Linked DNA regions of Homo sapiens. The protein of the gene in region 2 interacts with the protein of the main gene of each other region in a biochemical or structural test. Each region holds a gene or a part of one and is shown on either strand. Other genes may lie near its edges. The genes, in order: DTNA, SNTG1, SNAP23 and PLEKHA1.

Region 1 (7,357 bases), on a different chromosome or scaffold from region 2:
GGTTAATTTCTGAGAATCATACTACCCATTAGTAATTTCCACTTTCCTTCTAAGAGCATTGGCCTTTTACTACACAAAGAGGCAAGAGCTTTCTAATCTATCTTATTCTCCAAATTAATCATTATTGTCGTTATCATTATCATCATGATCATGGTACCATTACTTTCTTTTTCATTTGAAAAGTCTTAGATTTCTAAAAAAAAAATCCAATTCTTTTCATGTCAAAAATTACATAGTGGTCAATAATAAAATTCACCTTAATAAAATCGGAGGTTAAAAAATAACTCCTAAAAATGGAGTATCTAGATGATATTGAGTCATCATTCATTGGCTTGATCTTCATCTATTTTAGAAATATTTTCTTGGAATTTAAATATCATTAATTTTTTAGCAGAGGCTATACTATTTTACTCAATATGGTTGTTTTTTAACATGTTAAAAAACTGTTAAATATCTGTCTCCTTAGTAGAGGTAAATGTTTGCAGATAATTATCTATTGGTCTATGACTCTAGGCAGCTCTAGAGATTAAAGCTAAAATGTTAACAAACACTACAAATTATTCAAAATTAACAAGAAAGCATAATTTAAACAAGAGTTGAAACAAATACTGTACAATTAAAACATCCTGGCAAAATTTACAGTTTAAAGCAAGTACATCAAAAGTCAATTTTGCTTCTTAAGAATGAAAATACCAAAACAACTATAAAAGAATCTTCCATCTTGTGATCTCTGTTAAAATTATTTCAGAAGTTTTTGTGTACATATGGTCTAATGTCAGATGAATAAAGATCACAGAAATTTGGGCATATCTTGGTTTTTACACACTTGTAGCTCTAATATCTAAGCTGGCTGGTAGCCCATAACTACAAAGACTGAGACAACCTCACTGTAGATTTTTTTTCATTTTATTTAATAGAAAGGAACTATCTATACTTTATCATGTATTTTAAAGATGGAATAGTGAAATAAAAATACTTTTTAGTAATTTCCCTCATCCATACTACTCTCTTCTCTGACAGATACAGATTTAACCCTTTCCAGTACCGGCGGGAAAGAAAAATGCTTGGGTAAGAGATCATTTACACTTTTATCTTTACCTTTTGTATATCTTTTCATTTTTTTGTCTCTCTCTGTGTCTCTGTCTTGCTTCTTCTTTCCCTCTTTTATTTTTCTTTTAATAAAACATAACACTTTCTACCTCAGATATTGTCAGTTTCAATAATTTCATACTTTAGAATAGTTTACCAGGTACCATCTTTCACTGATTTTTAGAAACTCCCTATTCTCTAGTAGTAACAACTTATGTTTATGAAAATATCTCATGTTTTGAAAGACATGGTCATAGCTCATTTGTACTCAAACAACAAAGGGAAAAAGAAAGGAATAAATTCAGATACAAGCATGAACATTTACAATATTAGATGCTATTATAGTACTTTTGATATCTGTCATCATGGAAACAGTTCTCTTTATTTGAAATCATGGCAAATAATTTTTTTGAATAATGATTATAATTCCTTGCTTAAACTTAGAAAATGGCTTGGACATATGGAAACTAGAGAGATCAAGGAAATAGCGACGAAAATCACAGAGCATAAATAAATTTAATAAAATCTAAGTTTTCCTTTTGTAAGAAAGCATGCTGTATGAACAAACTTGGGAAAATTTATTGGCTTTTATCCTAATTAGTGCCAATTAAGGGCACATAATTGATTTTAGTTCACTAAGAAAGTATTTTTCAAAAAGATTTTCCTATATCTGCACTTTTTCAGGTGGACAGTGAATACACTAGAATAACAGTAGGGCTTTGCTACTATTTAATTAGGTTTTATTTCTAAAAGCTGCTAAGACAGCTTTGTTCTAAGAGGAAGGAAAGAAGTTGCATTAAGTAAACCCCTGGCTAAAATTAGAGTAAATCCTAATATCTTATGAGAAAGTCAAACATCAAACATCAAACATCAGTAAAAGCCATGAAAAAGTAATTAAAATAAGTTATTATTAAAGAAATTGTTCTCCTTTAACTTGCTCTGTGTGTACCAAAGCCTCCCATTTTGAAACAAGCTGCCAGGGTGATATGTAAACAACGCATGAGAAGGCGTCTGCGCTCTGGGAATTGATGCTCCACACAGCCACACTGAATTGTTTACATTCAGTTCCTACCAGCCTCTAAGCAAAAGAGTTCATTTTGCACTCACCCATGTTGTATTTACTTCTATTTTTAAATCCTGTATCACACATACAGCCACAATGCCTAAAAGATTAGAATGCTAATAGAAATAATAGATGTTTTAAAAAATATAGATAAAACCGGACTATACATGTTAGATGAGGCTCGCAATAATATGATGAAAGAAAAACAAAAGCTCACATACAATAAACACACTAGATAACTTTGCTGGAAAACTTTGTCCTACTGCTTAATTTAGTAGAAGAGACAAGTAGCTTTGGACAAATGCCACTAATAAGGTGTCCTCTAAGAAAAGCGGACCATTTTCAAAAAACAAAACAAGAAAACACTTTGTTCAGGTCTACGCTGATTTGAAGACACCAGTTATTGCATTCTTATTACTTCCTTTGCAGTTTTCTTTCTTTGACTTACACACACACACACACACACACACACTCCCACACACACACACTGCCATAAAACTATAACATTTCACAACATCTTAGACTTTCAAATTAAAAACAGCTGAAACCGGAGGTGGAGGAGCTAGGAGGGTGGGCAGGAGAAATTTATCGGGTGCCCATGTGGGGGTGGGGGTGGGGGCGACAGTGAAATTCCACCCAGCAAGTTATGCCACTGCGACAGAAGTCAGAGAGTTCAGTTTCATAGATTCAATTGTACCTTACCTGGTTTTGTAGTTAAATGCACCAACATGCCCCTTAATTCTTCCTCTGAAGTACTACATATGCTGAAAACTATAGTATTTGACCTTACACATTTCCAAACAAACTCCAAAGTAACCTTTAACTTCAATAAAAAGCTGTGTTCATTCTTCCCCTTGTGCTCAACACACAGCAATCTAATACACCTCATCATGTGGTCCGTTACCATGGTAGCAATGAATCCAGCTGCTGAAATACAAAAGACTGACAAAAAGTTGCTTTTTTCCCCTCCACCCACCCTGACAAAGTCAGATTTTTTTTTCTGTATGACAAGTCTAATTTGAATATGCTTCTCTTGCTGACTCAACTTCATGAACAAGAAAAAAATAACAGAAGTATAAGAATAAAAGGTTTCCCAACTAACTAATGAAATATCTCTATGCATTTTAAGTCACCATTAATCTTTTGAAATACTGATCATTATCTACTACATCAGCCAACTAAATATTTTTAAATGTCAGTTACTAACTCAATAGGAAATGCAGCAATAATCCCACAGCTCCTTTAGAAACATTAAAAAATGCAGTAATGTATTCAGTAAACACAGATGCTGAAAACACTACATCAGTGTATGAAGGGCTAGTTTCAAAGTGCTTTTTTTCTAGAGCAAACTTCTAATCACAGCTTAGATGTGGGAGGTAAAATTCTTCATTTTCTTTTCATCAAAACCCTGTGTTTAACTGTTATTTAAACAGATTTCAGTTCTTTTAAAATTTATCATTTAAATTTAAAGCAGGCAACACAGCCTGCTGGAATCGATCAGGCTATATTTGCTGAGGTGGGGAGGGCTCTATATTAAGAGCAGCAGTCTTGGATTTGAAACGATACAAACTCTGAGCAATCCTGGGACTCCCCAAACCAATGGCTATGTAGTTAGGATTTAAGGAATCACCTTCAGCGCATTACCAGTCCTTTAGGGAAAAGCTGAAGGAGTCCCAGGTGACTGGAGCTTCCCCGCTTGCCAGCATGTCAGCATGGTCCTTCCTCCCACCATGGTACATTAATCAGCCAGTGGGTGCCCCCGTCCTCCAGGGATGGCTACTTCATCCCTCAGGCCTCGCATAATCACTCTGCTCTTGCACAACCTTCCTTATTTCCCAAACTTAGCTTACATTTCACAATAATTTGTTTGCATATCTATCTTCTCTCTTTAGAGATGGACTCCCAGAGGAACAGGAACATTGTCTTACTCATCTTTCTCTACCAAGTAACCATCAAAAGACTTGGCACTAGGTAGGGCTACTTCTTCAATGGATAAAGATGGCATCTGAAAGCTTTCCCTCAACTCCTCCAGGACTGTCTTCAGAGCATGGCTTGCTGTGGTTAAACCCTTCAGAGATCTGCACAGAATTTTTCTTAGTACATCACATCACAAAGAGAGGCAAGGCAGAGGAGTTCTTAAGAAGAGCAATTGTGGAATCAAGCAGATGCGGATTTGAAATCTGGCTCTAGCCCATACTACTTTTGTGATCTTGGATAGGTTACTTAACCTCTCTAACCCTCAGTTTACTCTTCTGTAAAATTCCTACTTTAACAAGGAATGGAAATGGATTAAATGAGATAGTCCAAGGGAAGCACCAAGCTTGAAGCATACTAAATGCTCAATAAATTCTGGCTAGTATTATTTAGTCAATATGTGATTTTTGAACAAGAGGGACCATGAGAAAGCTGACTGGCACGTGACTTCCCTTTGCTGAATAAACTGTCATTTTCAACAAGATGTGCATTAACAATCCTATGTTTCCTAACATAGGTTTACATAACAACACAGCATAAATATAGAGACCTTTTTAGGCAAAGAGCAAGGGCTGCTTGCTCCAACCTACAAACCAGCTAGGAGCAACTGATCAGTCAGAAGGTTAAGCATATTTCTAGTATGAAATGGACTGTGGGAAGAATGTTAAACATGGTAGTTAATTTTTTTCATCTTTAAATATGGAAGAAAAACACAAGTACAGCAGTTCATTGTGGTATTCATTTTGGATTCTTAAAAAATGGTCTATATGTTATTTGTTAATGATACTTTCTCAAATTAAGATGAACTGTAAAGAATCTTCATCATAAAGGGCTTTAAAATATAAATTATATACATAGATTACATTTCTAGTAATTAACCAATATTGTGTCAATAGAAGCCTTTACAAGGTCACCTTGATCTCTAACAAGTACTGTAAACTGCTCACCAGTGTAGACTTTTAGCTGCTTCTCTCCATCGTAATCAAATTCAGGAAATTACCTGACACCAAAGCCAATGGTATAGGAAAATTAGCATTAAAATCCCTTTGAAGAATATGGTACAAAGAAGCAGCCAGGGGTTAAAAAAGCCTGTGGTAGAAAAAAACAATTTTATTTTTCATTGCAGGAAGTTACCAGAAAGAATAAAGTGAATGTTGCACATTGCAAGATTTCTCTATCATTAAAAAGTAAGTAAGAAAGAAAAGCCCCACAACAAATCAGTTGGGATGATTAAAATAGCTTTGGCACTGCTCCAACCTTGAAAAATCCTTCAGCGCGGTGACTCATGATGATCCAATCCAAAAAAATGTGTGAGGCCGACCAGGCAAAAAGGCAAGGAGCAGCTACACCGGAAAATTAGCACTCCCTAATCCTCTTCAAAACAGTTGATGAAGGAGAGACTATTTGAATAATTTGAACCCCAATTTGAATAATTCATACCTATTCTCATGTGTGGCTGGCTGAATAGAGACTCTCACTGACTGCATTCATTTCATCAGGAGTGTTTACCTTGTACATTTTTTTCCCCTGGAGATTGGTTATGTGGCCATTACACGTATCTAATTGTTTTTCATTTTGTAAATGTAAGAGCTTATCATTTATCTAGTTAAGGTACACTGTTACTAGAGCATTTAATATGATTGATTGCCAAACAGAAGGTGCATCCTTTGTCAGATGTTAAAGTGACTGTTGATTCTTTAACCCCTAGGGAATACGACGCCAGTATATTTGGTTTCACAAAGTTTTAAATCCCCTTTTGCAAATGTTAAAATTAAACTTCCCCCTCATGTGAACAAAATATGCAACATAATCTGTGCTCTTGTGACCCACTTAATTTCATATGAAGAATTCAATCACTTAGAAAAAGTTTTTGAGACATAGGTAATGATGCTTCAGAAGGTACCCCAGGAAGTCAATTTGCCAAATCCTAGTCCCATAGAAGCAGGAGGGAGCTTCAAAGTTATATGCTTCACTGCCCTCTCTTCAGATGTGAGAGCACCTAATTTCCTACAAACTCAAGGTAACAACATGGGCTCAGAAGTCACGCGCTTAAATTAAGCAACATGGCTGCAAAAAACGTTGATGGCCAATGTTAATGAAATTAAAACAAGCAAAACAATTTGAACCTCTGAAAATGCAATTTTCACATCATAGTTAAAAATTATTATTTATTTTTTCATACCACAAAGTGCTTTATTGTTAGGGCACTGGTTTAAATTAAAAAAGAAAGTGTGTTGACAGCAACAAAAAAAGATTGTGATCTACTGAACAATTTTTGCAAGCACATTGTTTCTTGGGCCACTTTGAGCAGCTGACCTAAAAAATATTAATCGGATTAGTATCTATTCTGCTCATAAAAATTTCTTATGAAAGAACAAGTCTGTTGCAAGCCATCTCAATTTATACAATTTAATATCAAGATATTCTATTTTACCCTTAAGATATTTCAAACATGCACTTTTCCTTTGAATTGTAACAATGGGGCTATAAATAATAAGGATTTCTTTATGTTTTTCTTCTGTGAGTACATCACAGAAAATATCCGTTTTTAAATAACACTATGAAATTGATGGCTCCATATCTTACAGATAACCTATTGTGAACTCTGAATCATTTTGCCATATCATTTTTGGAAATTTATCCTCAAGCCTCTGTTTTTGTATTTTTTCATGTGTTTAAAAATTATAATTATATACTTATATTCTGAATGTATTCTTAGTGAAAAATACGTTGGTTTTTAAACTTAATAATAAAAACTTGTAACTTTCCATGTTCTCATGAAAAGATAATGTTACATGTCCATTGTAGAGAAGTTGAAAAATACAGAAAACATTTGTGAAATAATATTAAAAGCACTTATAATTCAACTATCAGAAATAACAAGTATCAACATTTTGATGTATTTCTTCATACATTAAAAATTCATGGCTGGGAGCGGTGGCTCATGCCTGTAATCCCAGCACTTTGGGAGGCCGAGGCGAGTGGATCACCTGAGGTCGGGAGTTCAAGACCAGCCTGACCAACATGGAAGAACCCCGTCTCTGCTAAAAATACAAAATTAGCTGGGCATGGTGGCGTATTGCCTGTAATCCCAGCTACTTGGAAGGCTGAGGCAGGAGAATCGCTTGTACCTGGGAGGCGGAGGTTGCGGTGAGCTGAGATCACGCCACTACACTCTAGCCTGGGAAACAAGAGCAAAACTCCATCTCGAAAAAAAAATTCAGAATAATT
Region 2 (7,028 bases):
TCGTTTTTCAGAAATCGTTCTCTCCAGGATGCCCTGTGATCTGCTTTTGAGCAAACCCAAAGGAACCTCAAACATCCATTCCTTTCACTTCTGTGCAGTATCAACACTGTTAACCATGGTATGTTTGTTAGAACTCCATGCATTTTCCTTTATACCTTTCCCCTACACTTTCTACGACTCTTTTATGACCTTCTTTTCTCTTATTTTTTTCTTACTTTTGAAAGATATTTATGTCTGTAAACAATTGTTTTTCTTTTATTCTCTCAAATAGCTAATAAATTTTCATAGCTTTAGCAGTAATCTCCACTTCGGTAGCTCTGAGTTAGATAGGTCAGGTTTTACCCTCTTTCTAAAATTAATGGGTTCTTCACCTGCATTTGGTTGTTATGTCCTCTCATTATCCATTTGACATGTCCCATGTCAGATATCACATCTTTCCTTCCAAAGAAGCGTATTTCACACTTACATATGTGAGCATTTACCTAGTACACAAAAACACTATCTCATTTGGCCTCCTCCTGATTCTTGTTTTATTTGATAGCGGCATCACTAACATCTAGTCATTTAGTTTTAATAGGCTAATTTCTAACCTTCACCCAATTAGGTCCAGCTCTCATCATCTCAAGTCTGAATTCTGCAATAGAATCAACTCTGGTCCACCATGGTTCCCTGAAGCTTGTAAAATATGACTTTCAACATGTGATTATGCTGTCCAAAAACCTCTCTGTTTGTATAAGATTAAGATCAAGATAACACATGAACCCTTCAAGATTCTTGAGAATCTAAACGCCTCCAGTTACTTAGTTAGTAAAACTAAAGTCAATGAAATTCAGCTGTTCTGTTTGTTGTTGTTGTTGTTGTTTATTTGTTTTTTTATTTATTTACTGCAATCTAAAGCAAGTCAAGCCTATAATAGGTGTTATAAGAAGAGAGGCAGTTTTTCTTCCTAAACCACTTATGAATAGAAAAGCATTAAATATTGATCCTAAATCTCAATTTTGACTTAATCTATAGAGAAGCATTTAACTTTCCTGGAGCTTGATTGTCCCATTTGCAAAACAGGAATGAAAAAGTCAGCTTCCTAGTCCTGCTGTGAGAATCACATGAGATTCCCTAAAACAGGACTCTAACAATCATGTATAACACATAGAATGTGAGAAAATAGTATTACGAACGGAAACTAAAGTGTAGGGTTACATTTTCCCAAATGCATTTATTATGCCCTATGAAGACTTTATACTGAAACTTCTAGTTCCAACTTCAAGGAGATTTCTTGGAAAAGAACACAATATGGAAAATAAAAGCAAATGACTTAGGTAGATAATGGACATATTTTAGTTTTCTCTAATCGCTTAAAAGGATTCTTAAGTTGAGAAAAAGATGTGTTTGAAGAGAAAAATAAAGTTAATTTATGAAGTTAATGAATTGGACAAACTACCACAATCTGACTTACTTTGACTCTAAGTGTGCGCTATTGTATTACTCTTGATTGGCTCATCTATAATAATGGTGTAAAATGTACACAAGTAGATTAATCTACTTTCGGGAGTTTTACTTCTTCAAGATTAAAACCAGACCAGGAAAACAAAAGGGAAATAGTCTAGCTAAGCTGGAACAGGCTCCACCATGTGTTAAATAAGGAAATATCATTTAAAACTACTGAAAAAAGTCACCAAATATAGAAAAAATAACTGTTCTGGAATAACTATTTTTTTATCCCCAATGATTTTTTAATCCACTTGTGTGTCCTTTTCATATTATTCATTTGTTAATAATATAGTAAAAGGACACCCACAAAACTTTGATATGTTAATTACATTTAAAGTCAAACATTTCATCTTAAGACATTCTTTCCTTAGGAAAAAAAAGCTTTTAGAGAAACAACAAGCCAATGAGCCCACTTTTGCTGAGTATTCCCTCAGCAGTAGATAAATTCAGTGACTTAGAAATCTTGGGTAGATTCTTCACTAGCATTGTAGAGGACAAGTGTTGTTCTTTTCTATCCTTTAATGTAGTCTCCCCTTTCACTGAAAACTGCACTATGCTAGTCATTTGTGTTCTGGGAAGAGGGAATATTTGCAGATATTAGTCAATAACTAATACCCCTCAATCAGTGTGGTTTTGTAAAGCCCATCCTACTTCAAGATCCAGCCCAATATGTAATATTCCCTTGGTCAATCCCAGTACATCTACTGGAACTATTGAGGAAGTGAACTGGATTTGGGAAGGAAACACTGTAGAACTATAACTGGTAAGGAGGTGAGTAAGACAGAGAAAGAGATGAAGAAGAGAGGGGGAGAAAAGAGACAGACAGAAACAGAAACATAGACAGGAGTGAGGGAGAAAGACAGTGAGAACAGAGAAAGAGGCAAATGTTATCACGTAGGCAAACCGTACTTTGGAATGAAGACAACACTGAAGAATGCGGATAGTATTTGAACACTTTAATCAAGCCATACCTGCTATAATCTGCTACTGCATAAGCCAGTAATTCTCTTTTGCAAATATATTTTTTATTTAGTTGCTTATTTGGATTAAGCCACTTTAAGCTGGGATTTTGTCACTTCTAGCAAAAAAAGAAATTAAAATATACAAATACCAATTAGGCAAAATAAGCTCCTTTTTTTCCATCAATAACTGCAGAATTGTTTTTCCCTTTGGCACAGTCACTATTAACAAGGATTAGAAAAGAAGAAATTACAAAAAAAAATTGCCATATATCAAACCAAAGCATAATCTTATCCATCCCTGTGTTTGTGCGGTTGTGTGGGTGTGTGGACTTACATCACCGAACATACAATAAGACATCTGCCTCCAATTTGTGAAATCCAACAGAATATTCTATAGAGTGTGTTATAATTTGCTGATGAAATGTAAAAAATAACTTTCTAAAGAAATTATCTGTTTTTACACATATGAGTAGGCACAAAAGTAGAAAATTTGTATTCTGGGAAGAAGGGATATTTGCAGATATTAGTCAATAACTAATAATCTTTTCTTAGTCTCACTGTTAATCAAGGTTATTATCTGGGTTATTGTAGCTGTTGCATGTGTATGAGGGGCAAAAACAGTAGCTGGAAAAGATGCTGGAATAAAACATATTATGTAATATTATTGACCTATCTTCATTCCTATTTGTTCTATGAGTTAATTTTTCCCCACAAAACTTTTGCCCATTCAAAAACATGAAGTATCTATTTTATCTCAGCCACTCATTATTTTTTAGGTTTATTTATTTTAAAATTGTAAAAACATATTAAGATGAACCTTTTCATCAAGTCGTGGTTCATTGTCTCATTTCTAGATAAAAACAAAAAGGTCTGGAAAAAATCTGACTGAATATCTCAGTTTAGGGTTTCTATTAAATGTCATTGAAATGGGAAACGAAAAGGTTCGGCAGCTATGTGTGGAATCTAGCATGTAGTCTGTTTCGCTACATGCAAAATTTTAACAATGAAATTAGGTAAAGCAAAAAGTAGATTTCACACAAAATTCTCTATTTTCAGTTCTCACGTTTTGTTCTAACTGAGCAGAGCTGAGTCGAGGACTCTTGACGGGCTCACTTTCTGCAGTGTGATGCAGATCTCACTGGCTAGCCTCCCTCCTTACATGAACTGCCTGCACCCTGAGGGCATTTGAATTTACAATCTATGCAAAGAGATATAGGTTTGAATAAGAAAACAGAAAAGGGAAAGTCTAGAACAAAGCATTAACAAAAGAACTATGTGGTGATGAGGATAGTATGTTTGGAAGAGAATATAAAGCATGGGGGATTTATCTGGAGAAATGAGAGAGCGGTAGTTGATCAGAGCCATGTGCATAGACTAGTCTAACAGGCTAAGTCATAACACTCACCAGCTTCAACAAATCCCGGTCAATGTACTAGCCATTGTATACAATTTGCTCATTAACTGTTCCCAGCAACACACTGCAGTGGACATCAGACTTAGAGACTTCACATTCCTTGCCCAAGTTTTTGTCATTAATGCCATTTCTATAACAGGATTCGAACTTAAGTCTGATTCTAAATCCCATGTATGTTCCACCATGAGAGCACGGAAACATTTTCAAGAAGAATGGCATGACAGATGTGGAAGGAAAGTTTATGAGTTCAACTAAACATAGACATTGTTTATTTTCTCATGGACATAATAATGATTTACCAATAGGACCAAGGATATAGCTGAGCAGTTAAATTAAGATAAAGTGATTTACCCAAGTCCACACAACCAATTGATGACAAACCATGTTGAACCTCAGATTTTGTGTGTACTGGATGCATTTTTAACCATAAAATACTCTTTTCTCATCTATGATCTAAATTTCTTAATCTCACATACTTATTTCTCACCCCTTGAAAAGATTCAAATAAAATTTATTATTTTTAATATATATATTTTTTTGAGATAGAATCTCATTCAGGCTGGAGTGCAGTGATGTGATTATATCTCACTGCAGCCTCAAACTGCTGGGCTCAAGTGATCCTCCTACCTCAGCCTCCTGAGTAGCTGAGACTACAGGCACATTCACCACACCCAGATATTATTTTTTTATTTTTTATGTTTTTTTTTTCTATTGAAGAAACGAGGTCTCACTGTGGTGCCCAGGCTGGTCTTGAACTCCTGGCTTCAAGTGATCCTCTTGCCTCGGTATCCCAAAGTGTTGGGATTATAGGCATGAGCCACTGTACTTGGCCTTTTCATAGTTTTATATAAGTAACACATTATTGTTCAAATTTTGGCACCATTTCTAAAAGATTTCTATTTTCTATTAGCTTATTTAGTGAATTTACCAGGCAAGCACTTATTCTTTTAAAAAACTAAATCTTAGACCGAAATTGTGAGTAAATTTGTTAAACATAGAGCATATAATTACTTCACAATTTTTAATTTTAAAAATATCTTCAAGTATGTACATTACATATGATGAAGTGATAATAAGCAAGTATTCAAATGAATTGATTTAATGACACTCTTTTTGAAAAAAAATATAACATGATCACTTTATCTTTGCTGACAAATTGAAGACCAAATTCAGGAGACCCAAAATGATTTTCTGACTCTTTCAGTGTGTAGAATGTGCTGAAGAAACTTCACGGTGAAAATTTAAGGATAATTCAAAGATAAATTCTCTGGCCTCAAGACATTATTTTAATGACCTCTTACTCTCAGTTCTTTTTCATTTTATGTTTTTGACTGTTTCTGGGTTTTTGTGTGTGTGTGTGTGTATTTGACAAAAAAAAATCTGAATTATATTACTAAGTAAGTGATGATATAATTTTTTATCGCTGGTGCAATTATATAATTTAACCACAAAACAATGCTGGAAATAACTGTAACACCAAACATTGACTTATATTTCCTAAGAATACTGTCAGTATATTTTTAGTGATAGTCTAGAAATCTATACAGACCAAATGTTGATAAATTACATTGAAAAAATCATAGTGACGTTTAAAACCCGACTAAGAAAAGCAAATAAGCAATGAAATACTGCTTATTCGATTTTCTAAAGAGATGTCCTAAAGAGGCCTATGAATAAAATCTAGGCTTTCGACTAAATCAAAACAACATCTTAACAGCATTTCCAGGCTAGCCCCTTAGATCAGCCCGCATGTTGTCCACATTTCACTCCATGCTCACAAGCCAGCAGTCAAATCACAATGCTTTCTGTATGTTTTAGGATATGGAGTTTTGAAGTGTATTTCATCGTATGAGTTTCCTTATCAATATCACTAATGACAAACATTAATCCTCCTTTATAAACTAGAAAATTATGACACGACATGATAGATTCTTTGAAGGTCAAAATGAAAGTTGTTGAAATAGACTCAGGTCAACTAAGTTTGTCCAATTGATATAGAATGTGGTGTCAGTTCTGAGTAATAAAATATTTTTGAAACCAAGTCCACCTTCATTGAATATCACTTATATTTATACCATTAAGAGATGTAAAGGAAATGACTGCTGAAGTATCAGGGAAGTATTATATTCCCTATGCTGAGAGTTGTTAAGTATAAGGGATGTGCCTGTTATTTAGTAATTAGTGGGATTTTTTTTGACGAATGAATGAATGCTATTGGAAATTATTTATAATAACTCACAGATATAACACTTGTTTCCAAAACACTCTCAAAATCATTGAATTTCGACTTTCCAGTATCCCACAAAGTAGGCATCATTCACTTATCTCATGAGTGTTCAGGTATCAGCTGTATGTAAATTATTGTGTCTTCATTGAAAAGTAAAGAATCCCCAAATTTAAGGAAGAAAAATTCAGCTGCAGTGGATTGAGTGACTTGTAGAAGATCTTATGGCCAGCAGTTAAAAAATTCTGATCTTTTGACTGTCAAGTAGTACTTGTTTCCCTACAACATGATGTGTAACATGTTTCTTACCACAGGATGTTGTCTCTTCCAACACATGCTATGTGCTCACTCTGCTAAGCTAAATAGGAAGAAAACACCAAATAAGAGATCTCTCTCCATTTGAATTCTATTCTATAACACACTGTACAGATTTCTGGGAAGGTGAGATTACTATGGAAATAATTTCTAGCTTACAATATGCTTTTTTCTTTCCTAGTGGCTTTTGTGTTGCTTAACAGAACTAGGTGAGTAAGCAGGCTAGCTGCTTGGAATTTATAAATCTTTAAGTGGTCAAAAACAGCCAATTACTAAATATTAGCAATAGTCATTTTTTACTTTTATATTTTTTGATAAATGTTTGAACTTGATTGAAACCCAAGTAAATAACTCCAAAGGCAAACTGTGAGCATTAAAATCCAATACGATTTCATGGTATGAATAATTACATTAGAATATACAAGTAATATTTATATAGTCTATGCAAAAATTAATCAAGAAGTGTTTTTATAACATTTTGGAAGAAGGCAATTGAATGGATTCCAGGGCTCATTTTAAATTATCCTCTGGTCCTATATATACTTTACATTTTCTAGATTATGTAATCCCATCTCACCTTTCTCTTTTGAGTCTCAAATGTAAGCAACAGCCAACAACACTTAGT
Region 3 (7,028 bases), on a different chromosome or scaffold from region 2:
TTAACATTCAGCTCCTTGTTACTTAACGCAAATTTCTACAGCTGGCTTAAATTTCTTCTCTTTGCTTTATAAATTACTTGGTGGTCTCAGCTCAGTGATCCAGTGATCTGAGTGATCTCAGGAAAAGAAAGAAATATTAGCAAATAAGAGAAACACCTTACATTGCCATACTCCTTTGACAGGTCATGTGAAAGTAATTTAAGTGATCATATCACTTAGCCTGCAGCTTGAATATTTGTCTCAGGCTAGGTTTTACTTTAGGTGCTTGTAGTATGTGTTTATGCACTAGAAAGTTAGTGTTATCATAGTTCCAGCATAAGGATGTCTTACTGTGCCAAATAAACAGTGGAATTCCTATATGTATCTTGATATTTGTTTCTTGTACACTGAATGAACTTAGGTACAATACACACAAGCCCACTTAACTAAAGGTCACATCTTTTTTTTTTTTTTTGACAGAGTTTCACTCTTGTTGCCCAGGCTGGAGTACAATATCTTGATCTAGGGTCACCTCAATCTCCACCTCCCGGGTTCAAGCGATTCTCCTGCCTCAGCCTCCCGAGTAGCTGGGATTACAGGCAGGCGCCACCATACCTGGCTAATTTTATATTTTTAGTAGAGACGGACGGGGTTTCTCCATGTTAGTGAGGCTGGTCTCGAGCTCCCGACCTCAGGTGATCCGCTCGCCTCAGCCTCCCAAAGTGTTGGGATTACAGGCGTGAGCCACCGCGCCCGGTCTAAGGTCACATCTTTTCTAATCATTTAGAACACAACCTAGAACCAGAAAGAAAGTAAACAAAAACAGGCCTGTACTCATGGGACAGCTGTGGAGTCTTCACCTATGAGTCATACCACCATCATAATTTTTGCCATTTAGAGTACTGTTGTTATTTTACTTCATGTTTAATGGGTTTTTTAAAAAAACATTGCCCACTTCCAAAGTGATAATCTGTGAAATCATGGTTTTTATGTATTTTATAGCTTTTTTAGCATCCATTATAATAAATACATAACTATTAAATATATAACTCTTTCATATGTAACAGTTAAAATCATATTCTTGCTCAGCACTTTGGAAGATACTGCTTTGGGCCTAATCAGCTCATTTTTAAAATGAAGATTGAACTAAAGCTTATGGGCTTGAAAATTCTGTGATCTCTATGATGATGTTCATTATCATAACACAATTCTAGCAAAGTTTACTGGTTCCACCAGATGAAAGTAGATTAGGGCCGGGCGGTGGTTCATGCCTGTAATTCCAGCACTTTGAGAGTCTGAGGCAGGAGGATCGCTTGAGCCCAGGAGTTTGAGACCAGCCTGGGCAACATGCCAAGACTGTCTCTACAAAAATTTTTTAAAAAACTAGCTGGACCTGGTGCCCAGTGCCTGTGGTCCCAGCTACTCAGAAGGCTGAGGTGGAGGATCGCTTGAGCCTGGGAGGTCAAGGCTCCTGTAGATTAAAATAACAAAAAGGAAAAAGAGGATGTTTGCTCTTTGATATCAGCTGCCTTTTTTTTTCCCTGAATTCAGGCTTTCCCCCGCCCCCGCCCCAATTTGGTTCCTTTATCTGCAACACTCTGGACATCTGTTTTTGAGCTATGTTTGTACTCCACATTGTGTATATATTAGCATGTATAATATTATAATGTTGCTTATCTCCAAGAGTGCTGAACTTTTTATTCCATTACTATATTTTGTTTCCAGATCTGTAGGTTGACAGACGGGCAGATGACAAGGACTGCTCTTTTCTTTTCCCTTTTTTTTTTTTTTTTGAGACAGAGTATTACTCTTGTTGCCCAAGCTGGAGTGCAATGGTGTGATCTCGGCTCACCGCAACCTCTGCCTCCTGGGTTCAAGTGATTCTCCTGCCTCAGCCTCCTGAGTAGCTGGGATTACAGGCATGCGCCACCACGCCTGGCTAATTTTTTGTGTTTTTAGGAGAAACGAGGTTTCACCATGTTAGCCAGGCTGGTCTCAAACTCCTGACCTCAGATGATCTGCCTGCGTTGACCTCCCAAAGTGCTGGGATTACAGGCATGAGCCACCTCACCCGGCCAGGACTGCTCTTTTTCTTTGCTGTGATAGGTAGAAACTTGAAACAGAAGGATCCAGTGCCTCTAACAATTAGAGGAAGTGGATTATGGAGCCAGGAAACAAAATGTACTGTGTTTTTTTAAATAGTAAGAGTAGAAGAAGCCCATTTGTATTCATTTAGATTCACTGACATTTTGGTTTGGGTTTCAATTTAGGTTGTATTGCTACTAAAGTATTTAAATCACTGATTCCTATGTTTTTCCAGAATTCTCTCTTCTTGTTGCTTTCTGTAAGTTCTGTAACTTAGATGTAAAGTTTGTTTAAATTTATTTTGACAGTGTTTTGGAAATTGAAATTACTTTCGATGGCCTTTCAATACTTATAAAACTCAAGCCAGGTGTGGTGGTGTGTCTGTAGTCCCAGCTACCTGGGAGGCTGAAGTAGGAGCATCAGTTGAGGTCAGGAGTTCAAGACCAACCTAGGCAGCATAGCAAAATAAATTTCAAACTTCTTGGTATAGTATACAAAGCTCTTCACAATATGTGTTCTGTCTTGAAAGCCATCCCCTGCCCTCCATACATACACACACACATTATATTCCTGCCTCACCACTGAAGCCTTACATTGTGGCTTTTTCTTCCTTTTTGATAATTTAATTTAAAATCATAATTTTTTGGACTTGATCATACTTGGATTTTGACCCACACAAATGAGAATCAGGGTGTTTGTGTTTTTTTGTTTGTTTGTTTTTTAAGACAGTCTTGCTGTGTCACCAAGGCTGGGGTGCAATGGCATGATCATAGCTCGCTGCAGCCTCAAACTGCTGAGCTCAAGTGATCCCCCTGCTTCAGCCTCCTGAGTAGCTGGGACTACAGGTGCACGCCACCAGGCCTGGCTGATTTTTTTTTTGTTGTTTAATTTTGTGTAGAGATGGGGGACTTGCTTTACTACCCAGGCTGGTCTCAAACTCCTGGCTTTAAGCAATCCTTTTGCTTTGGCCTCCTAATGTGCTGAGATTGTAAGCATGAGCCATCATGCCTGGCCAAAATCACGAGAGATATTTCATAATTATTATGAAAAGTTATAATAGTTTTATTGAGCACTGTGTGCCAGGCACTGCTCTAAATACTGTGCTTGAATTAGCTCAATCCATGTAACAACACTTAAAGTAAGCATTATTCTCATTTAATGAGGAAACTGAAGCACAGAAAAGTTAACAGTAATCAGGATTTGAAACCATTATGCCTTCAGATATTGGGCACATAACTACTATACTATGTTGTCTTTTGTATAAGCAAGAATGCCACTCTTTTCTGTTGGGGGTATCCTTTCCAGGGACGTGAGTGCTTATATTCTCTCTTTTTTTTTTTTTTTTTTTGAGACGGAGTCTCGCTCTGTCGCCTAGGCTGGAGTGCAGTGGCGCGATCTTGGCTGACTGCAAGCTCTGCCTCCCAGGTTCACGCCATTCTCCTGCCTCAGCCTCCTGAGTAGCTGGGACTACAGGCGCCCACTACCACGCCCGGCTAATTTTCTGTTTTTTAGTAGAGACGGTTTCACCTTGTTAGCCAGGATGGTCTCGATCTCCTGACCTCGTGATCCGCCTGCCTCAGCCTCCCAAAGTGCTGGGATTACAGGCATGAGCCACTGCGCCCGGCAGAGTGCTTATATTCGCTGTCTGTAGCTTCTGACTCTTAATATCGGAATATTTGAAAAACTAACCAGAAAGCATCAAAGTGGCTGGGTGTGGTGTCTCACGCCTTCTGGCATTTTGGGAGTCCAAGACAGAAGGATTGCTTGAGGCCAGGAGTTCAAGACCAGCCTGGGCAACATAGTGAGCCACCCTATATCTACCTAAATAAATAAATAAATAAATAAAGCATCTAAGTGAACTTAATCAGAGCTAAACTATGTGGATGGTTTCGGTGAATATTTCATTCAGGCAGGGTGAATCCTTGCCAATTAATCTCACCCCGTACTTGGTATCTCCCTGGCAGATACCACACTTATGCCTGCCACATTGTCTCTTCCTGGGTAGATTGCCAGCTTCTGGCTCTTGAGCCCCGTTCTTATCTTTCACATAGAACGTCCCCTTTCTGTTCACATAACCATTCTCATTGATAGGGTTAATAAAATTGATTACAATCAAACCTACATCTACCTCCCCAGTATTACTCCTGGGTCACTTAGAGTAGAATTGTGGAAGTTCCTAATTTGACAGGGACTTGAAGACCAGGCGTTGGACATCAAGCAATTAAGTTACCATAGGTGCTTCTGTAAAACTGAAGTTTAATTTTTTTTGTAATTAGAGTCAGGGTCTTGCTATGTTGCCCAGGTTACATTTAAACTCCTGGGCTCAGGTGATCCTCCTGCCTCAGCTTCCTGAGTAGCTGGGACTATAGGCCTGAAAATGTAATTTTGGTTTTCTTTTTGGTTCCTGATTTTTAGTGGGACTTTCCCATTTGTTAATATGATTTCTGTCTTGAATCTTGTGCTTCAGTGTACTTTGAAACCAAGCTGATTTTTGTTTGTTTTGTTTTTTCGTGTTGTTTTTTAAGATGGAGTCTCGCTCTGTCGCTGAGGCTGGAGTGCAGCGGTGCGATCTCGGCTAACTGCAACCTCCGCCTCCCGGGTTCAAGTGATTCTCCTGCCTTAGCCTCCTGAGTAGCTGGGATTACAGGTGCCCGCCACCACGCCTGGCTAATTTTTTTTTTTTTTTTTTTGAGATGGTGTCTCACTCCGTTGCCCAGGCTGGAGTACAGTGGCACAATCTCGACTCACTGCAACCTCTGCCTCCTGGGTTCAAGTGATTTTCCTGCCTCAGCCTCCCAAGTAGCTAGGATTACAGGCACATGCCACCACGCCCAGCTAATTTTTGTATTTTTAGTAGAGACGGGGTTTTGCCGTGTTGGCCAGGCTGGTCTCGAACCCATGACCTCAAGTGATCTGCCCTCCTCAGCCTCCCAAAGTGCTAGGATTACAGGCGTGAGCCACCATACCCGGCCTTTGGTATTTTTTAGTAGAGACGGGGTTTTTCCATGTTGGCCAGTCTGGTCTCAAACTCCTGACCTCAGGTGATCCACCCACCTTGGCCTCCCAAAGTGCTGGGATTACAAATGTGAGCCACTGCGCCTGGCCTGAAACCAAGCTGTTTAGTAGATACGATTCTGTGATGTACTTAGTATATTTGCATTTGAGTTATAGACTTTGTATGGTAAAAAGAAAAGAGTTTTTAAAAAGAGAAAAAAATATGTATGTATATTTGCATAGTTTTGGGGCCTATATATAAAAATGGTTAAAGTTGTTTGTGTAGAAGGAGATAGAAAGGAAAGCCCAGAGAGGAAGTAAAAGGAGGAAGCCATCCTTAACATAAAGGAGACCCTTGCCAGGCAAAGTGGCTCATACATGTAATCCCAGCACTTTGGGAGGCTGAGCCAGGAGCATCACTTGAGGCCAGGAGTTTGAGACCAGCCTGGGCAACATAGTGAGACCCTGCCTCTACAAAAAAAAAAATAATAATATAATAAAAGGGCCAGGTGTAGTGGTGGGCACCTGTAATCCCAGCTACTCGGGAGACTGGGGAAGGAGAATCACTTGAACCCTGGGGCAGAGGTTGCAGTGACCTAAGATTGCACCACTGCACTCCAGCCTGGGCAACAGAGCGAGACTCCGTCTCAAATAAAATAAAGTAAAATAAAATAAAATAAAAAGTGAGACTCTGTCTCAAAAAAAAAGTTGTATATAGCCTATACTTTATATCATCAACTTTAATATTCAAATTTAGCCTTGCAGATGGAACTATTAATATTTAGTAGCTATTACTTTCAGCTACATTTACATAAATGTGACTCATATTCAACATTGTTACTTTCCTTTTGTTTTGCCTACTATTTATTTCCACTTCAGTAAAAATATTAATATAATGGCTAACATTGAACACCGGCCATGTGCAAGGCATTGTACTAAGTACTTTGTGTAGATCATCTCTTTTTAATCTTCACAAAAAAAACAAAACTATAAAATAGAATGTTATCCTTGTTTTACAAATACAGAAACCGAGTTTTAGTGGTGTTAGGTAATTAACTTGGGGTCACACAACAAATACATTGTGAGGCTGGAATTTATATGCTGGAATTCCCACTCACCCACTATGCTATCCTGCTATAAACAGAAGTTTCCTCTTGCTGCGGATGCATTGGTTACCATGGACGTAGACTTCTATCAAGCCAAAGAGAATGCTGAACTTAAAAGTACAGTAATAAACCCTTTGAGTGTAACTCATTGAGGAGCTTTATTGTGATTAATTTTCAGAGAAGGAATAAGGCAGGAAACTAATTTGGTAGAATATTTTAGCTGCAAAATCCTTGTTTACCAGTATAAAAAGAATTATCTTATAAAATCATTCTTTGCAAGACCCTGTGAAATTGATGGTGATTTTTTTTTTCTTTTTTTTTCAGACAGTCTTGCTCTGTTGCCCAGGCTGGAGTGCAGTGAGTCTTGGCTCACTGCAGCCTCTGCCTCCCAGGCTCAAGCCACAGACGTGCACTACTGCACTCGGCTAATTTTTGTGTTTTCTTTTTAGTAGAGCTGGGGTTTCACCGTATTGGGCAGTCTGGTCTTGAACTACTGGCCTCAAGTGATCCGCCCACCTCTGCCTCCCACAGTGCTGGGATTACAGGCATGAGCCACCACGCCTGGCCTGATGGTGATTTAAAGTGCTCTTTCTTCATTACTTCTTGAGTAGCTCACCAGTTTTACAAATGAAGCCACATGGATCTTCCAAGGCCTTATTTAAATTCCAGGGCCTTTTTTCTGTGTATTTCTTTCCAAGAAGCTCATTTACTTTTCCTTTCTTCTTTTCTTCTCTTTTCTTTTACTTCCTTTCTGCTTGCATTTTTTTTTTTTTTTTTTGAGACGGAGTCTTGCTGTTGCCCAGGCTGAAGTACAGTGGCATGATCTCGGCTCACTGCGACCTTTGCCTCTCGGGTTCAATCAAC
Region 4 (6,866 bases), on a different chromosome or scaffold from region 2:
AGAAAAAAAGTTACTTAGGGTCAAATGGTTTAATATTGCTCAGTAAGTGTAAGAGAGTTCTAGTGCTATAACAAATAACAGGATGCTTTATGTTTACATAAAAACATCCCATATTTTTATGTTTCTAAAAATAATTAAGCATTATAAACAATCATCTAAAGCTACCAAGTTTTCTGCCCTTTCTGAAAGCATTCCTTTCAGACACCATGTCAATAAATTCTTAAATGCTGGATGTGTACTCACAAATGGTCAAAAAACCTAAAACCAAATCTTAATATTTAACTCCTATTGAAGTCATTTTATTGTATCATTGCAGATCTAAAACAAGATTTTTTAATCTTGAAATTTAAATTTTAATATTAACAAAAGTAAACTGCTCCAGCATGAGAAAAGTAATTATTTGCATATTACCTCAGCTCACAGTTGGAATCAAATAGGAAATACTTTAAGGCAGTTAGTTATATCAACCCAAAATTTTCTAATAAAAGCAATGTTACTATTGTCACAAATAATTACTACACTATATTCAGAAAACTATCTTCCCCATTCTCAAATAAGTTATTTAAACAATAATGACTTGACATCAAGCAATATGTCAATGTCAAAGTATGACTTAAATTATATTAATAAACTATTTATTAGATTTCATTCTGGGTTACAAATTATCACACAATTAAAATAACTTCGGGATTTGCAGCATGACTAATAATAATAAAGAACTTCCAGGCTTAAGTCAAAAAGCCACTTTGTTTAAATCTCCATTAAATGTTTTTTGTGGGGGGAAGTCCCCATAAAAATGTAAAATGTTTCCACCTTTCCCAAGTATCTTCCTAGGAGTGGTCAATATTGTCATATCCTATATGTTAGCAAACGATACTTGAATGACTTTTAAAGAAAAGAATCCAATGCTATTCTTAACATCCTTAAACACTTCTAAAAAGGTCCTTCCGGCTTATGAACTCATGGCAGTTTCCTCACAATTGTATACTTATCCTGTTTCACTGTCTCTCCTAGTCTATGACAAACTCAATTTTACACACCATCTTTCCTATTTTGTTACACTGCTAAAACTGGGGAGAAAAAAAGATACAAACCTGCTACTTTCCCCCCTCCCAAAGCGACAATGAAAATACTAATTAACAAGATAAAGATTGGAAGCTCTGCGCGCGCCCGCGCGGTGTGTATACACATATATTTATATTATATATATATATATATATATATATATATATATCTTCTTAATGTCACTAAATTCACAGCCATATATCTTGATACAGGTATACGCTACAAGAGAAAACTGTCAGTAGATACAGTGTAAGGTTTACGGCAGTATAAAATAAATTAACTACTTTATTAATTCAAATTCTGTCAAACTTAAATACTCTTTTTTAAATGTATCAGTACTCTAAAATGCAATTTTCCTTGGGAAAATTGGCCAAGATAAAAAATACTTTAACTCCACTAGGGGAAATATTTCTTTTGCCACAAGTGTGTCAACAGGAAAAATTAAGAGCATGAAAAGTAAACAGGTATTTTGATCAGAATAAATCTTATTATTTTAATATAACGGGTCTTCAAGTTCTTCAGATTGTGAAGAAAAACACAGTTTCACAAAACAATCACATAACTCTTACCCAAACTTTGCTGTAAATGGTTTCAGTGGCATCAAATTAACATAGAAAGTATGCAAGCTGAGTACTTGGGAAAATAAAGCAGATTGATCAGGAGTTCTAAGATGAAAGACAATGGTGTAAACCTCATAGTGCACTATTTGTTCCAGTCATTAAACACACAGGAAATAAGATTTTCTATTTAGAAAACTAACTCACAAGGGGCAATGACTTCATTAAAACAAAGAAAATCTTATTAAAACAACGATCAATTGTAAAATAAGAAAACCAGTACTGCAGAATTGGAAGGTGAAACAAACAGACGAGGAAAACGCAGAAACTGCCTGGATATTTATTTGTTCCTTGAACCTCTTCTTGTACTGCCCCCAGAGAGCAAAGGAGTTTCATTATTTATACGCCCAGACCACGGTAGATGCTCTGCGCGGGGGCACAGCCTCACCAGAATTCTACCAAAGGCGGTAAACACTATAAGCAACAGGACCGCTTTCATTATGACACACTTTCCCCTCTTTCCAGGAGGTCAATAGAAAGCATCTGAAACAAACCACAAACCACTCAAGACGGCCCCAAAGCTCTGCGGTTGGCAGCTGGCCTCGGCGTCGAAAGACCTGGGTCTGGTCGCCTCCCCGGTGCCACCTGCGTGACCTTGGGCAAGTCGCTTTCAACGCTGCCTCTGGCCACCTGCCCCGAAGGTGCGGAGGTAAATCGCGGACACCGCCCGACTTCAGGGCCCAGGGCGGAGCCGGCTTCGGCCTCGGCAAGTCCTGAAGCCAAAATGCATTAAACACCAGGAAAGGATGCCCGGGGACGCGCGCCCCGCGGGCACAGCCCTGGAGGGAGGCGCTCCGACCGGCGCCACCGGGAATCCCCGGGCAGCTGCGCGCACCGCGCCCCGAGCGGGATTTCTCGGGGGGCGGAGACGCCGAGGAGCTCGTCGGCCCCGCGACCGCCGCGGGCCTCCCGCCCTCCCCCGCCGGGCGCCGCTGAGGGCTGACGTCGGGAAAACAATCGGGGACCCACGGGAAGAAGACGCCGCCCCCTCCCGCTGCCCCAAGCCAGGGCAGGTGAGCCGGCCCGGCGGCCTCCAGGTGCTGTGGCGCGTGGCGCGGACGTGCGCAGAGGGGGCGCCGGCTCCGCACTCACCAGCACCCACCGCCCCTCTGCGGACGCCTCCCCGCTCGCCACAGCGGGAACCGCGCTCCAGCAGCCCGGCAGCCCCGCAGCCGCCGCCACCTCGCGCCTGGCCCCGTCCACCACCCCTGCTCCAGCGCGGCCGCGTTCTTCAAGCTAAACTTTACCGCGGCCTCGGCCCGGAGCACCCGCGCCGCCGCGGCCCCGGCTCCCACAGAGGCTCGGCTGCCCGGAGCGGCGTCCGCGACGGCCAGCCCGCGCACTGCGCACGCGTCCCCACGCTGCCTCAGCCCTCAGACGGCGGCTGAGATTCCGGAGCGGGCGCTCCCAGCCCGCAGAGACTACGAGTCCCGGCAGGCCCCGCGCGGGTCCCTGCGGCGTGGCGGGCCGAGTTTCTGGCGTCTTCCTGGTTCCAGCGGCGGCGGCCTCGGCGCGCCGGGGAGGCCTGCGCGCGGAGCTCTGGGCCGCCGCGCCGCGGTGCTTCCTGGTATTCGTAGTTTTTGACCACCACTGGGCTTGGCTCGGAGGTAGAACTCCGGGTTCTCTGATGTCATCGCCTAGAGCTGCGAGGAACAGGGATCTTTAAAAATAGGCTTCGTTAGTTTGCAGATAATTTGTTTGCAAGCTGTCCCATAATCGGTCCAAGTGTCACAAATTTACAGGCTGCGGTGTGACCTGGAGAAAAACGCTTTACAGCTCTGCGCGCCAATTTTTCGCTCTTCTCTCTCCCTGCAAATGTAGCTCCACTGCCTACTTACAATGGTGTTAATAGTACAGGAGGGTAAGAGAGACTTAAAGAAGGGTTAGTCGAAATTCTTTCAGCAACGGTGGAGCATAAATATGTATTCTGGTAAATATTCGTTGAGTGTTTAGCAATTTCTCGAGCACTTAACTGTGTGCCAAGTACGCGATAGGCAACCCGGCATTCATCTGAGAAAGAGACACTGTCACTGCCCTTATGGAGCCTGCAGCTTGGGGGAAACTCGTCCGCAAACTAGCAAAATCGTTCCAGATTTTAATAGAATGGCCAGACTGAGAAAGTTCAAGAGACAGTAGCGGTGGCGGGGACGGGGGGAGGCTCTTCAGAGAGAGTGGCAAGGCAAGTTCTCTGAGGATGTGATATCTGAGCTGAAACCTGAAGAATGAGAAATATTCAGACAGGCAAAGAACTGGGAAAGAATTACATGCCACGCCTTTCACAGCGCATGCCACTCTAGGCTCTTAATAAATATTTGTTCTTTTTGTGTGCTTCTTCCTTTCCTCTCCTTGCACAACCTTAGATCACATCCTATCCCCTTCAAACCCTTTAAAAAATCTTTATCAACATCTTTTAGAATATCCTTCCTATGTGAAAATGTACATGAAACAAATGTCCAGTGGTAAGACAAGCTGTACAGCTGCTAGGACAGAAGACACAACCCTGGTGACAGGCTGGAATCTATCTACTTTGCCACTTTCTTTATTTGCGAACTGGGTTAGAAGTCTGGGGGCTCAGCCTGGCCTCCTGACTTGTTTCTCTTCATGGGGCATCATACAGGATTTTGAGTTTGTCTTTATTAAAATCTTAGAGGAAGCCTACCTGTTATCTGAATCAGAGGTGTAGTGAAGAACAGCCCTAGATTTTCCTGTGTAGACTTACCTATGTGACTTTATGCAGAGAGTGACACTTTGCCCTTCTGACCCTCAGTGACCTCGACTGTAAATGAGTGTCATCCACCCTGCCTGCCTTGCAGAATGTTCTCAGAGTCTGATAAATTGATGGAGGTGAAAACATCTTGCAAACTGCATAGAACGGCTCTCTGACTGCCTCTTTGAGACTTAGCATTTTCAATTGCCTTTCATCCAACGTGATATTTTGGTTATCTTTTGAGAAACCTTAGCTATGCAGCCTTGCTGACATCTGTCCCTTTTGGGGTCCTCATCTGTATAATGGTTGAAAGGGTTTGGCCTCACTATAGTTTATAAAGTAGCCAGAGCAGATTGTTTCCTTTGGTCCACACAGTGGGTTTTTGTTGATTTAACTGAATGTGTGGTTAACATTTAAAAATAAAAATCTAGGTGTCACCTGTCTTATCCCTGTAGGCATTTGAGTTTGCCTTCCCTGGCTAGAAGGTCTGGAAGGAGTCTCTAGCTTGTCAGTGCTAGAATCCTAGAAGATTCCAGATGGGAAATTTGTTTATTTGAAATTCAAAGTCAAATTCACATCTTTTATTTGATCTGAAAATACTGGTCCTGAGAATAGAACACTTAGGCCAAGAGCCTCTCACCCTCTCCAGGCTGGACCCGCCGGATCTCTCTCCTAAATGTTGTTTGACATCATTGATGAGTGGTTTGAAATTGTTCCTTTGGCCAATGTGATGGCTCCTGCTTGTAATCCCAGCACTTTGGGAGGCCAAGGTGGGCGGATCACTTGAGGTCAGGAGTTTGAGACCAGCCTGGCCAACATGGTGAAACCCCCTCTACTTAGCCAGGCATGGTGGTGGGCACCTGTAGTCCCAGCTACTCGGGAGGCTGAGGCAGGAGAATCAACTGAACCCACGTGATGGAGGTTGCAGTGAGCTGAGATCGTGCCACTCTACTCCAGCCTGGGGGACAGAACGGGACTCAAGAAAAAAAAATTGCTCCTTTGTTCTTTTTGCATAACAAGTCCCCAAAACTGTTTATCATTGAGAGCCATATTTACATACAGTAAAGAAAGCCAGAAAAGTAACTCAGTTTGCCCAAGGACACACAACAAGATAATCCCAGGACTGCTTTGAGGTTGCAGTATAACCAGAACTTCATAGCTCCCGATCAGCCAATAAATACAGAGACAAAAAAAAAAAGCTCTCTGCTTTTCTTCCAGCCTCTTTTTTTTTGGATGCAGAGGTTTATTACATAACAGTGCTTTCAGTGCTATTTAAAAAAAAAATAGTACAGGGAAATTACAGTCTGGGAGCAAACCAAGAACACTCAGGACTCACTGAAGGCACTGAGGAATGCTGGAATATTCCATGGCTACTTTTCATCTGAAGAAAAAGGAGGAGTCTGAATTCAAGGATCTATAGTTTAGCTGTTTACTTTTTTTTTTTTTTCTGCCGGAAGGGACAGAGTCTCGCTCTGTCGCCCAGGCTGGAGTGTGGTGGCACAATCCCAGCTCACTGCAACCGCTGCCTCTGAATTCAAGTGATTCTCCTGCCTCAGCCTCCCAAGTAGCTGGGATTACAGGTGCCTGCCACCATGACAGGCTAATTTTTGTATTTTTAGTAGAGTCAGGGTTTCTCCATGTTGGTCAGGCTGATCTCGAACTCCTGACCTCAAGTGATCTACCCCCCTCCTCAGCCTCCCAAAGTTCTGGGATTACAGGTGTGAGCCACTGCCCCAGCCTGCAGTTTACCTTTAAAGTATCACTGTCATCATTATCATCATGCTTTGCACGTGTGAAGTACGTTGATGTTTCATTCAAAAATAGCTCTTGGGCCCCTTCCATATGCTTAGTGCTGGGCTCTGGGGCTTCCAGACAGACGTCAGCCCCTCTGACAACACAAAAAGCAGCGTACAGAGGCACGCAGAAAGCTCCTGAATGCTAGTCACCTCTCTAATATTTGATGTCTGCAGCATTTCCTGCATTATCTTTTTCCCCTTAGCAATGGTCACTTTTGTACATATTATATATGTGCATATATATTTTTTTTTCTGCATATCCCTCTAAACTGTAACCTCCACGTGGCCAGGGATTTTATGTTTTGTTCCTGCTTGTATCCTTAGTGCCTACAACAGAAGTATGTGTTGAATGATGAATGCCACAGTCCCCTTTATGGACAGAGCCAGCATCAGAAGCCAAGCAGAAGGAGTACCTCCAGAAGCAAACCTCTGTTCTAACCAGAAATCAGAACCAAGATAGAACAAGAATTAAACATGAACTGAACACTCTCTGAACCCGGCTTTGTTCTTTTTGTGTCCCCTCCAGAAACTGGGTAGCAGAGAGTTAAAAACGGCTTTTCCCTATTTTTTAGTGTAAAAATGGCACAAGAACTCCAGGCAGCGAGTCAGTGGAGTTGCTTCTGTGGGTGAAGAGTCGGAGCTGGCTTTCTGACCCTGCCTCACAACTGGCAATGACCAAGT

Evidence for each region.
Region 1: the proteins of SNTG1 (region 2) and DTNA form a complex in vitro, tested with the Homo sapiens proteins (one study listed by BioGRID).
Region 3: the proteins of SNTG1 (region 2) and SNAP23 form a complex in vitro, tested with the Homo sapiens proteins (one study listed by BioGRID).
Region 4: the proteins of SNTG1 (region 2) and PLEKHA1 form a complex in vitro, tested with the Homo sapiens proteins (2 studies listed by BioGRID and IntAct, with this or other methods).

What each region holds. Positions count from the first base shown.
Region 1 is NC_000018.10:34,705,943-34,713,299, reverse strand, and holds the start of DTNA (dystrobrevin alpha), read right to left. Parts: upstream 3,003-7,357; 5' UTR 2,855-3,002; intron 1-2,854. UniProt on the Homo sapiens protein: May be involved in the formation and stability of synapses as well as being involved in the clustering of nicotinic acetylcholine receptors.
Region 2 is NC_000008.11:49,914,392-49,921,419, reverse strand, and holds part of SNTG1 (gamma-1-syntrophin), read right to left. Parts: intron 6,447-7,028; exon of another isoform or gene 6,398-6,446; intron 1-6,397. UniProt on the Homo sapiens protein: Adapter protein that binds to and probably organizes the subcellular localization of a variety of proteins. May link various receptors to the actin cytoskeleton and the dystrophin glycoprotein complex.
Region 3 is NC_000015.10:42,498,634-42,505,661, forward strand, and holds part of SNAP23 (synaptosomal-associated protein 23), read left to right. Parts: intron 1-7,028. UniProt on the Homo sapiens protein: Essential component of the high affinity receptor for the general membrane fusion machinery and an important regulator of transport vesicle docking and fusion.
Region 4 is NC_000010.11:122,370,870-122,377,735, reverse strand, and holds the start of PLEKHA1 (pleckstrin homology domain-containing family A member 1), read right to left. Parts: upstream 3,029-6,866; 5' UTR 2,930-3,028; exon of another isoform or gene 2,775-2,929; intron 2,396-2,774; exon of another isoform or gene 2,177-2,395; intron 2,159-2,176; exon of another isoform or gene 1,635-2,158; intron 1-1,634. UniProt on the Homo sapiens protein: Binds specifically to phosphatidylinositol 3,4-diphosphate (PtdIns3,4P2), but not to other phosphoinositides. May recruit other proteins to the plasma membrane.